2 separate regions of the Homo sapiens genome follow, and region 2 is linked to region 1. The links come from fine-mapping of genetic effects on gene expression. A gene starts in region 1. The other region holds a variant in brackets. All regions are shown on one strand. Distances are between the middles of the regions.

What was found. PIP is the estimated chance that this variant, and not a neighbour inherited with it, causes the effect.
Region 2: its variant is the best candidate, but not a certain one, in a credible set for the expression of ARC in whole blood (TOPMed, PIP 0.51).

What each region holds. Positions count from the first base shown.
Region 1 is chr8:142,612,083-142,617,439 of GRCh38, forward strand. ARC (activity regulated cytoskeleton associated protein) reads right to left here and starts at 2,397. Exons shown (of 3, transcript NM_015193.5): 1 at 402-2,397; 2 at 26-170. The coding sequence starts at 2,189. The coding sequence ends at 999. RefSeq lists an enhancer at 1,590-2,488 and a silencer at 2,504-2,713.
Region 2 is chr8:142,580,873-142,586,229 of GRCh38, forward strand. No RefSeq gene overlaps it. Among named protein-coding and RNA genes, the nearest start is that of ARC, 31 kb to the right of the region's middle. RefSeq lists an enhancer at 4,927-5,357. The variant T/C (reference allele first, on the strand shown) is at 2,409.

The DNA.
Region 1 (5,357 bases):
GGGTGGAAGGGTGGTGCTCCGTTACCTGTTGTCACTCTCCTGGCTCTGATGGTGCCAGCTGCTGCCTCAGCCGGATTTGAGGACTCAGCCCCTCTGGGACCCTCCGCCTGCCATGGGTGAGTCATGAGCTGAGCTCTGATTCTTCTCCAGGCGGGCGTGAATCACTGGAGCTGGGGGAGAGAAAGCGCGGGTCCATGTGAGAGCTGGCTCAGCAAACTGCCCCTGCCTCCCACCCGGCCCACTCTCCCCAATGCCCCCTTCCATGATGCCAGCCCCACCCCATCCCTTTGGCTAACTTGCTGGGGGCCCAAGCCTCAGTGGGCTCTCCTAGAAAACAGCCTCCGGATCCCGCCAGCTCTCAGATGCCCCACAGCCGGTACTGCCTTGGGGCAGGGGCTCACCTGAGGGGCCAGGAAGCACCGGGACATCAGGTCTGCTCTGCTGCGTGTGCGACTTCTACTCTCCCCTGGGAGGAGGGGGCCGCGCTGCCCGAGGCTGGCCAGCTGCCCTGGGAGGCAGGGAGGGCGTCAGCTGGCTCTGCGGATGCCGGGAGAGGGCGGCGGCGCCGGAAGTCGAGGCTCCCTCAGCATTGGCTCTGCCCTAGCTTCTGCTCTGGGTGTCCCATGAGCTTGGTGGCCGCTGGCCCCTGCCATCCGGACACTTGGTTTTCTGGATGTCCAGAGGGCCTGGGTGTTGTAGCAGAATGAGGAAGCTGGGGTGTTCTGTGATGGCCTGAGAGTGTGGAGGGTGGGGTCCAGGCCGGAAAGACAGACGGAGGGAGGGTGATGGGTGGAGCCCTGCAGGGGGGAGGGCTCTTTGCCGCTGGGTGCGGTGCTCACATCTGGATGACACGAGTGTGTGCGAGTCCGCCCGGAGCTCGAGGGGGCACCCAGCTGGACCAGGGCTTCCCCTGCAGGAGTCAGCCCCAGCTCAAAAGTCCTGGTGGGCAAAGCCACAGGCTGGATGTAGTGGGCAGGCTGGGGGCTCCGGGATGCCCTCTACTCGGGCTGGGTCCGGTCACTGGCCACGGACTCGCTGTTGGGGGCGGGCGTGAGGGTCTCCGCCTCATCCTCCACCGGGAGGTGGGGGCCGGCCGGCTCGGCCGCCTGCTCCAGGTCATCCTGCACCTCCATGCCCCTCTGGATGAGCTGCTCCAGGGTCTTGGGCAGGGGGTGGCGCAGGAAACGCTTGAGCTTGGGCTGCAGGGTGCCCACCACGTACTGGATGATCTCCTCCTCGTCCGCGTCCACGTAGAGCGTCTGGTACAGGTCCCGCTTGCGCCACAGGAACTGGTCCAGCGGCTCGCCCTGCTTCTGCGGCAGGTCCAGCTCGCGCTGGATGGCCTCTCGGGACAGCGTGCCCTCGCTGTACTGCAGGAACTCCTTCTTGAACTCCACCCAGTTCTTCACGGAGCCCTGCTTGAACTCCCACCACTTCTTGGCCGGCCCGTTCATGTGATTCTGGATCTGGGACAGCCAGTACTCCTCAGAGCCGCCCACCTGCCGCAAGTACTCCTCTAGGTGGCTCAGGAACTCTCGAGGGTCCTCGAAGATCTGCGTGTCCACGCCGGGGCTGGGCTGCCCGTCCTCGCCGGGGACCCACGGCTGGTACTGCTGGGCCTCGGCGGGCTCCTGCCCGGGCAGCTCGCCAGCGGCTGGGGGCGGGGTGATGGCGTAGGGGCTGACGGTGTAGTCGTAGCCGTCTGCCTCGTGGCAGTAGCTCTCGGGACCCCCCACGCCCACGGAAACGGTGTGGCGGGCTGACTCGCTGCCCACCGGGTACTTGCCGCCCGTGGACTCCAGGCGGTCGGCCCAGCGCTCCAGGCGGTAGAACACCTCGCGCCACACGTGCATCTCGCGCTTGACCCAGCGCTCCAGGTTGGCGATGGTCTCCTGGCAGCGGCACAGGCAGGCCTTGATGGACTTCTTCCAGCGCTGCGAGTCGCTCGTGGGCACGTAGCCGTCCAGGTTGCTCTCCAGCTTCCCGACCGACCGGTGCAGCCCCTTCAGCTCGCGCTCCACCTGCTTGGACACCTCGGCCAGCAGGTGCCGGTGCGTCCGCCGCACGTGCTCCAGCATCTCGGCCCGGCACTTCCCGATCTGCAGGATCACGTTGGGCTTGGCCACCTGCCCGCCCCGCGGCCCGGGGTAGGCGTGGAGCCCGCCGCTGGTCCGGTGGTCCAGCTCCATCTGTGCGCAGGTGCTCCGGCAGGCGGCAAACTCCTCGGGGCGGACAGAGGGTGGTCCGGCGCTGGGGTCCGGCGGCCTGGGTCCCGTGCGGAGCTGCGGGGAGCGCCTGTCTGTCGCTGCGGGCCGGCGGCGGGGCCGGCGGAGCACGCCCGGGGAGGCAGGTCCGGCTCGGCTGCTGCGGAGGGAGGACGCCGCGCCCGAGCTCTGCGCTGAGTCCTGGCCGCCGGCTCTTTATGCAGCCAGCGAGGCCCGTGGGCGGCCGGCTCGCCGAGCCCGGTTTCTCATTGGCCCAGCCGCAGGCTCCCCGCCAGCGCCCCGCCCGCGCCCCTGCAGGCCCCGCCCTGCGCCCACTCGGCTCCCGGGCGGCAAGGGACGGGAGGTCCCACCCCCTGCACACATGGCGGGGCCAGGATGACTAATCCCTCCGCTCCGTACCTCCCACCCCGGACGGCGGGGCTCATTCAGCCTGCGGGGACCGAGGGACTGAGCCGGGCACTGGGCGCCCCTCCCACGCCCCCTCCCGGGCGCTGGGCGGGCTGTCATCTGCTGCCTCCCAGGGTCCCAAGGTGGCCTTCCTCCTCTCCACTCGCCTCTCTCTTTGCGGGGCTGGAGGGGGCTGGCGCTGGCCACTGCTCTCCTGGGTCCTCACTGCCCCTGACCCCGCCCACCCAGCTCTGCAGGATGTGCAGCTGAGCCCGGGAAGGACCCTCACCATCAGCCTCTGTGCCCAGGGGCTCAGCAAGTCTCCATGTGAGCTCCCAGATGTGGCTTTGAGCTCCCACTCACTCCTGCCCGGGTCCTGAGTCCAGGTCTTGGGCTCTGTGTGAGGGACGCACAGCCAGGCAGAGGCTCGCTCTGCCTGGCCCTGGCGTTGGTGTGCATGGGTGACAGGGGCCCACGTGGCAGTGACTGGACAGGGCTGCCCCATGCCCCCATACGCAGGTCTCTGGTGAGGCCCAATACTTTTCTGTGTTTCCAGGGAAATCTGGCAGCTGCTACCTGGGGGGCTGGGGTTTGGAGGACATGGAGGGGACATTTAGCCCCCAGTGAAGGGAATTGGGCCCTGAAGACCCTGGCTATATCAAGAACCTGGCCAGAGGCTCCAAGACTTCTAAGGGGATGGAAGAGGGGAGGAGAGAGGGAGACAGGGAGGGAGGTGGAAGGAGGGAAAGGAGAAGGGGAGGGAGGAGAGGCGAGGAGGGAGAGGGAGGGGGGCCGGTGCTGGCAGCACAGTGCCATCAGGAGAGGCAGAGGGAAGCCAAGCACCATATAAGGAGCGGGGCTCCGGAAGCCGAGACTCCCTCGGGAGGGAGGTCCCTTCTGCCTCCCTGGCAACCTGGCGGGGGTAGGGACGCCCTTCCTGAGTTACTCCAGTGCTGGCTGGATAGGCATGGGTCTCAGGTCCTCTGATGTTACCCAGGCAGGGGTGACACACACCATTCCCCACAGCCAGAGGGCCATGAGGACATCATCGCTGACAATCAAGACATCTTGTTCCTGCTGCCAGCTGCCCTTTCCCTCTCTCAGACACACACATGCTGCACACTCACACCCCCACATACACACTCATAGCCCCCACTCTAACCCCACCCCACACACTCATGCCCTCACTCACAGCCCCCACACACACTCATACCCCCCACTCATAGCTCCCACATACACACTCATACCCCCCACTCATAGCTCCCACATACACACTCATACCCCCCACTCACAGCCCTCAGCTCCCCCCAGCATCCCCTGTCTTATTCAGGCACTCAAGGGCACACAGGTGCCCACTTGCTGGAATCCCCCCTCCCTGCCAACCCTCTGAGCCCCCCCCCAACCGGCTCTCCCGGGGAGCCCTCTCCCAGCCTCAGAGCCAGTCTGTCTCCTCCTTCCTTCCGCCCCTGGGGGGGAATGTCTTTCTGGCAAAAAAACTCCCCAAAAATGGCTCTCCTGGCATTTCTAATTAAAGGTAAGTGGGCGGACAGAGAAGGGAGGGCGGAGGGGCACCGCGGAGCTGGGAGGGGGAGCCAGGCAGAGAAGTCTCCAGCACAGGGACCTTCCCGCTTCTCCACTGCGGAATCCCAGGGAGAGGAGCTGGGTGGGCACATGCGGGACGGGCAGACGCCAGCAGCCTTGGGTGAGTGCAGCCAGCGGTCACCGAGGGCCACATGTCCGGGTTGGGGCCAGCCTGAGCCTGTAGGTGTTGTCTGGGTGCTGGGCACTGACCGTGCATGTGTGTCCATTGTGAGAGCCAGCACTTCAATGACCAGGGGCCAGCCCCGCCAGGGTTTACAAGCCCGTGTGGCCTCTGACGTCCCCGCCAGGGCACAGCTCTTAGGCCTCTGGCCAGCAGTGGCCTCCAGCTGCCACCCCCACCCAAGGCATCAGCAAGCTGACAAGGAGGCAGGACTGGGGACACGTGAGCCAAGGTCATAGGTGGTGCCGCTGCCTCAGTTCCCTCACCTGTGTGGAGGGAGCCAGGCCTGGAGAAGGGTGAGTGCCCAAGGTGGCCCGGTGAGCAAGGCAGGGCTGGGCAGGAGCCAGGCCCTTGGTGAGGAATCCTGGCGTCCTCTGCTCAATGCCCCGTGGCCCATCACCACCCCTGTCACCTGCTAAACAGCAAGCCAGAAGTGGCCAAGCCGAGACCGGTGGGAGAGCACAGTGCCTGCCCTGGATGGCACGAGGGCAGGCAGCGTCGGGGGTGCCACGCGGAGCCCCGTCTTCCCCTCCCCAACCCCCTCCAGCAGGGTCTGCAGAGGCTGTGAATGCAGGCCTGAGCTGACCGGTGACAGGCAACAGCCGCAGCTGCCAGGAACGCTTAATCGCTGCCCAATTATCGCCCCAGAAGCCCTCACCAAACCCCCGCACTGCAGCCTCGGGAAAGGAGGCCAGGCTGACTCCCATCCACCTGGGGCGGGGGCCTCTCCTGACAGGGGCCTGCCCTGCTCCTCTCTCCAGCCCACCCCCACCCCGTGCCCGTCCCTGACAGCCACTGGAGCAGCATGGCTTGGGGATGCAGGTGGGGGAAGGAACAGGGGAAGGGGGTGGGGGCTAGACCTGCACAAGGAGATTGGGAGCACCTGGGGGATCCCCACTCTCAAAGCCAACCTGGTCTGCTGCTGCGCAGGTCTGACCACTCTGAGGCCCCACCTGCCTGAGAGGAGGGGTCCTGCAGGGGAG
Region 2 (5,357 bases), 31 kb before region 1:
CAATGAGCATGGATTTACCCTTCTCAGAGAAGAAAATACTTATTTAAAGCCAAAACTGATGTTTTTTTTTTTAAGGCAAGGAAAGGACAAACCAGCAAATACTCCCTTTGGGTTAGGGAGGGCCAGCCGGAGAAGAAGCCGAGGGGCAGCCAGCACAGGTTCCGCCCTGCCCTGGGGTCAGAGGTCTGAGACCCTGGTGGCCCTGGAGTCTGAGGAGAAGATGGGAGGGGTCAGGTCTTCCAGGAGAGGGTGGGAGAGGGTGGGGGCGCTGCCCAGCCAAGGAGGGGCCTCATGAGTGCGGGGAGAGGCGGCTGCTGGGAGCAGGACACCAGGCCCTCTCCTCTCTCAGCCTGGGGCAAACTTGCTGAGTTTTCTGGGAGGAAGCTCCAGAGCGTGGCTGTCCCAACCGAGGGGAATTTAAACTAGGCTGGGCCCAGCCATGGGATGGAGCTGGAGGTGCCAAGAGGCTGGCCCCTGAGCTCACAGTCATCCTGGGTCTCCCCGCTTGTCCCAGAAGCTTTGCTAGGGAGACTGATCAGCCCCGGCCGTGAGTGACTGCCCCGTCTGCCCGTCCACCCGCAAACAGCAGAAGCTTTGCTAGGGAGACTGATCAGCCCCAGCCGTGGGTGACCGCCCCGTCTGCCCGTCCGTGAGTGACCGCCCCGTCTGCCCGTCCGTGGGTGACCGCCCCGTCTGCCCGTCCGTGGGTGACCGCCCCGTCTGCCCATCCACCCCAAAACAGAAATTGCTTGCTAGGCTCCTAGACGTCATCCGACCAAGGAGAAGGGACCAGGCGGCAGGCAGGGGAGCGCCTCGACCGCGTTACTCTCCCTTGATGGCAGCAGAAAGGGAGGCATTCTCAGGGTGCGTGTGTACCACTGAGCCCCCAGAGGCCTCTTCTGCACAGCGGCTGCTGCGGAGGTGTTGGGAAGGGATTCCCGAGGTGAGGTTTGGTTCTCAGCTGCAGGGGACAGACTTCCAGGTGCCCTGAGGGATCTTAGAACTGGACCAGGCTACCCAGCAGCCCCCACAGGTGAGCCCAGCAACTGCCACCGTGCAGGGTTGGGGGTGATACCTTCCCACAGGTATCCACCCCAGACCCAGCGAGCCACTGTCTGCAGAGTCAGCAAGATTGCTTCCCGAGAAAGCCTGTCCAGCAGCCAAGGGCTTACAAGGGACCAGTTCTCAACAGTCTGGAGGTTGAGGGGAACTTCACCCAAAGGATTCTGGCCTCAACTGACTCTGCAGGCAGCTGAGGGAATTCCTGAGCACACGTGGCCCTGAGGCTGAGAAGGAGGAAGCTCTGGAAACAGGAAGCCGCAGTACCCTGACCCAGGCAGGGGCCCTGAGACAGTGGAGCCCACAGTTGGCCTGAGGAAGGGTCCCCTAGGAGGGGCCACTGACCAGGGCTCTGGGGAGGGGCTTCCCTTCCTAGAAACCCTCACCAGCCCCTAACCATCCCCAGGAAGAGGCTGGAGGGCTCCAAGAACACCACGGATGGGGTGGTCGCCTTAGCTCATGCTATGGGTTTGGGCTCACTGTCATTTGGGATCGTGCGTGTCCTCCCTCGAGTCCATGAGTCAGCCCCACTGCCTGAGATTGCGGTCCAGGATTGACCTGAAGAATGGAACCAGTCCAGAGGCGGGGGATGCGGCTGCCCTCGGGCTCATGACTGACGGCCCAGGCATCTTCAGAGGGGCTTTCCTGGGATTACAAGCCCCCAGCAGAGACAGCTAGGGCGTGGCTAAACCCACTGCCATGTCAGGAAACTTAGCAGTAAAGCCTTCTCCCACTCCCCACAATGGGACACGCTGGTGACAGCAGCCTCGGTCCTGGGCAGGCTGGAGAAGGACGTGGCCCCTCAGTCCTGCTGGAGGCCTCGGGAATGACCCCCGCCTAGGACACAGCCAGCTCCACTATGGGGTCACCCTGAGTCTTCTTTAGGAGACTCTTAAGAGATAACATCCCTGAGGAAACTCTGTCCAGTAATAGAGTTTTGTTTTGTTTTGTTTTTAATTTTTTAAAGAGCTGTCCTCTGAGAGACGCTTGTCATCACCACCAACCCTGGGGAGCTGGGAAAGTTCCTAAGAGAATATCCCAGCTTCATAACTGCTGCAGTGGGGAGCTCCCTGAGCCACAGCCATAGCCTTTCTCAGGGGCGTGTGTGAGGCTGGGGGACAGAAGGGAGTGGAGACGCGGCTCCAGGCTCCAGGTGGCTGTGGAGGGGTGTGTAGAGGGTGTGGTCCCCAGGGTTTCTCCCCCCATGCCAACAGCTGCCCCTGGAGAGATAGGCCCAGGGCTCTGAAGAGAACTGGGGGCCTGGGACCTGGGCCACTGGGCTGAGGCCTTGGTCTGGGACCCCGTCTCCAGCCGTGGAAAGTGGTTTTGGCACAGAGCTGGAGGGGTGG[T/C]GGCCAGGCCTAGAGACAAGGCTCCTGTGTGTGGCTCGCTGGGCGGCCAGGGGGGATGACCACAGGTGGCCTCCTTCAGCAACTTGGGCCCCAAGCACCCTCCCTGCTGGACAGCCTGGCTTTGGGGACTGTAGGGAGACCCAGGAGCAGGCCTGCTGCCCCCTGCTCCCTGACAGGACCCCTGGGCTCACTCCTTCCCCAGACCTCCGGAGGGAATTTGGGGTGAGGGTGGGATGAGGCAGAAGTGGGGGAGGGACAGAGACCCTGACCCAGGCCCCCGGGCTCCCTAGGGAAACATGAGTTTCCTAGTCCCCACAAACCCTGCAGACAGCAGGGGACCCTCTAGAAGAGAGGCTGGAATTGGCCCAGGGGGACCCAGGGACAGAGGTGACAGGGCCAGGCTTAGGCGGGCAGCCATTGGTCTAACCAGGGTTTACAGGGCCATTCTTAGAGAAGCAGAGCTCAGCGGCACACAGCTTCTCAGGGACCTGGGTGCAGCCGGCCAGGCACAGGGACCAAGGGGTCTGCCAGAGGTGGGGCAGAGCATGGGTGAGAGTCAGGTTCTCTCCGGGAAATACTTCGAGAGGGGCAGGGAGGAGTAGCTGGGGGTGCCATGGGCGTGGAGTGGGGGTGGCGTCATTGACAGGAGCCACGGCCAAGGCCTAGGGGAGGTTTTGTGGAGAAACGGGAGCTGGGAGCAGCAAAGTCAGGACTCTGGGGCGGTGGGCGGGAGGAGCTGCTGCCCTGGGGACCCCGAGGCCTTACGGGGTGAGCACCTCAGGAAAAGCAGGCTGGGGGTCGGGGGCAAGCTCCGCTTTGGCCGGGCTGAGGTCAAGGCACCTGTGAGTGAGTTGGAGTGAGGGGAGGAGCGGCAGGGCCCTGGAGTAGAGTCCAGGGGAGGTCCCAAGCCCAGGGATAAGCTCTGTCATGGGGTGAGAGACAGGGCAGAGACAGACTGGAGGCTGGGAGGCCAGGAGAAGGGCTGGAGTCAGGGACAGGGGTCTATACCCACCCTCCCCCCGCCACCCCACTGGTGTCTGAGAAAGGACTCCCACAGGGTCCCCAGAACTTGGTCTGAGTTCCTCAGTGTGCACTGGTCACTACTAGCATGGACTGGAAAGCCGGGCGTGGAGTACGTGGAGATCCAGACTCCACAAGACGAGGCTGAGCACAGCCACGCCTCCCCTGGGGCGCCCCTCGGCGAGGGACAGGGCCCTGACTGGTGACAGCTTACTTCACAAAGGGGACACCGAGCCTGGAGAGTGGCTGCTCTGCGGAGCCCGTGCAGGACCTGCGGTGGCTGGTCTGTGCCTTTCACCCATGGACGGTGCCCCCCACCATGCCGCCTGAAGTCCACAGAGGGGATGGGGGACCGTGGACCTGGGGCACGGGGTGGCAGAGGCAGCGTGGCGCTTGTGGGTGGGGAAGGGCCCCATCTGGGTGGGACACAGGGTGGGCATGCACAGTCTCCTCCCCCATCTCGGCTGAGCCCTGCTGCAGCCCACGGCTCCCAGAGCAGGCCTGTCACCCGCCGACTCATGCATCCTGCATAGAATAATTGAGTGCCCAGAATGTTCTGTCCTACATTGGCTTGGGAAAGGGAGAAAAAGATGTAACCAAGGTCATCTTCACCCCTGAGGGCTCGAAGCCCAGGAGAGGAGACAGGCTTGTAAAGGGAGAGCCATCCAAAAAGGTCAGTGGAGAAAATCTGGGCAGGCCTCCCAGAGGAAGGGGCTCTGGGTTGGAGCTGAAGGCACAGACAGGAGTTTGCTAAGTGGTGAGGAAGGAAAAGTCTTGCAGCAGAGAGAACGACATTCAAAGGCCCGGAGTGGGACGAGTGCAGCCATTCCGGGGGCAGGAGCGCTGGGCGCGGTGGCCCGGCCTGGGGGACCCACGTGGCTTCTGCAGTGGAGCAGCGAGTCGGTGCCGGTTTGCAGAGCCCTTTAGAAACGCAGGGCTCAGGAGCTAAGGTTTTGTCTTAGGACTGAATGGAGGCTTCACAGCAGTGCAGTCAGGAGAGGAGGCTGACAGGGCCGAGGGGCTGTGCAGGTGGGAGCCTCCCTTCCTTCCGCTGGACTCCACAGGACGCCCTTCCCCTCAGCAGTCACGGTGGCCTCTGCGTGGCCCCCGCTGGGAGACAGCGTGAGGGGTCGCAGCGGCGCCATCAAACTCCAGGTCCTTCCCTTGCATTTCTCAGGTTTCTGCAAGGGGCACGTGGGGGCACGTCCTAAAAACCCACTGCGCCTCCCGTCCCTGCCCACCCAGGCCGCGGCTGCTCCTGTGTCTATCTCTGACTCCCTGGAAGTTCTCCTCCAACCCCACCCCACACACCACCTGCTGTCTCCCTCCCACCTCCTTTCTTCCTGGTTCTGGGTCCCCAAATGCCCCGGAGCTGCGTGGGATAGGAGCCTCGCTGGGGGGAGGCGGGGGCTGGGTGGTGAGGATCGGGGAAGCTGAGCTCTCAGGACTGGGGGCCCCTCCTGCACCCGTCTCCACAGCAGCACCTTCCCGAGCCCGAGGTGGCCAAGCCTTGCGTGTGACTGTGAACCAGTGCCTGCCGCAGGCCCCGCCCTCAACCTCGTCCTCCATCGCGTGCTGTGGGGCCTGGGGAGATGACTGAATGGCTAGGTGCCTCAGTTTCCCCACCTGTAAACCAGTGTCGGCTGCACGTGGTTGTGATGAAGACTGAGTGTCGATATGAAAAGCACTTGGACAAGTCCGGTCACAGGAAAATGCGGTGCTGCGGGAGGGGCCACACTTGGAGGAGCTGGAGTGCTGGGGTGAGGCAGGGAGGGAACGGGCTGGAGGTGGTCATGGGGCCCTGCCCTTAGATGAGCTAACTGGGGAAATGGCTTCTGAGAGGGGGACGTCCGTGTGGAAATGGGAAGAAGCTGGCCGGGTGCAGGTTGCGGGGCAGGCATGAGGGGAGGCAATTCAGGCAGCAAAAGC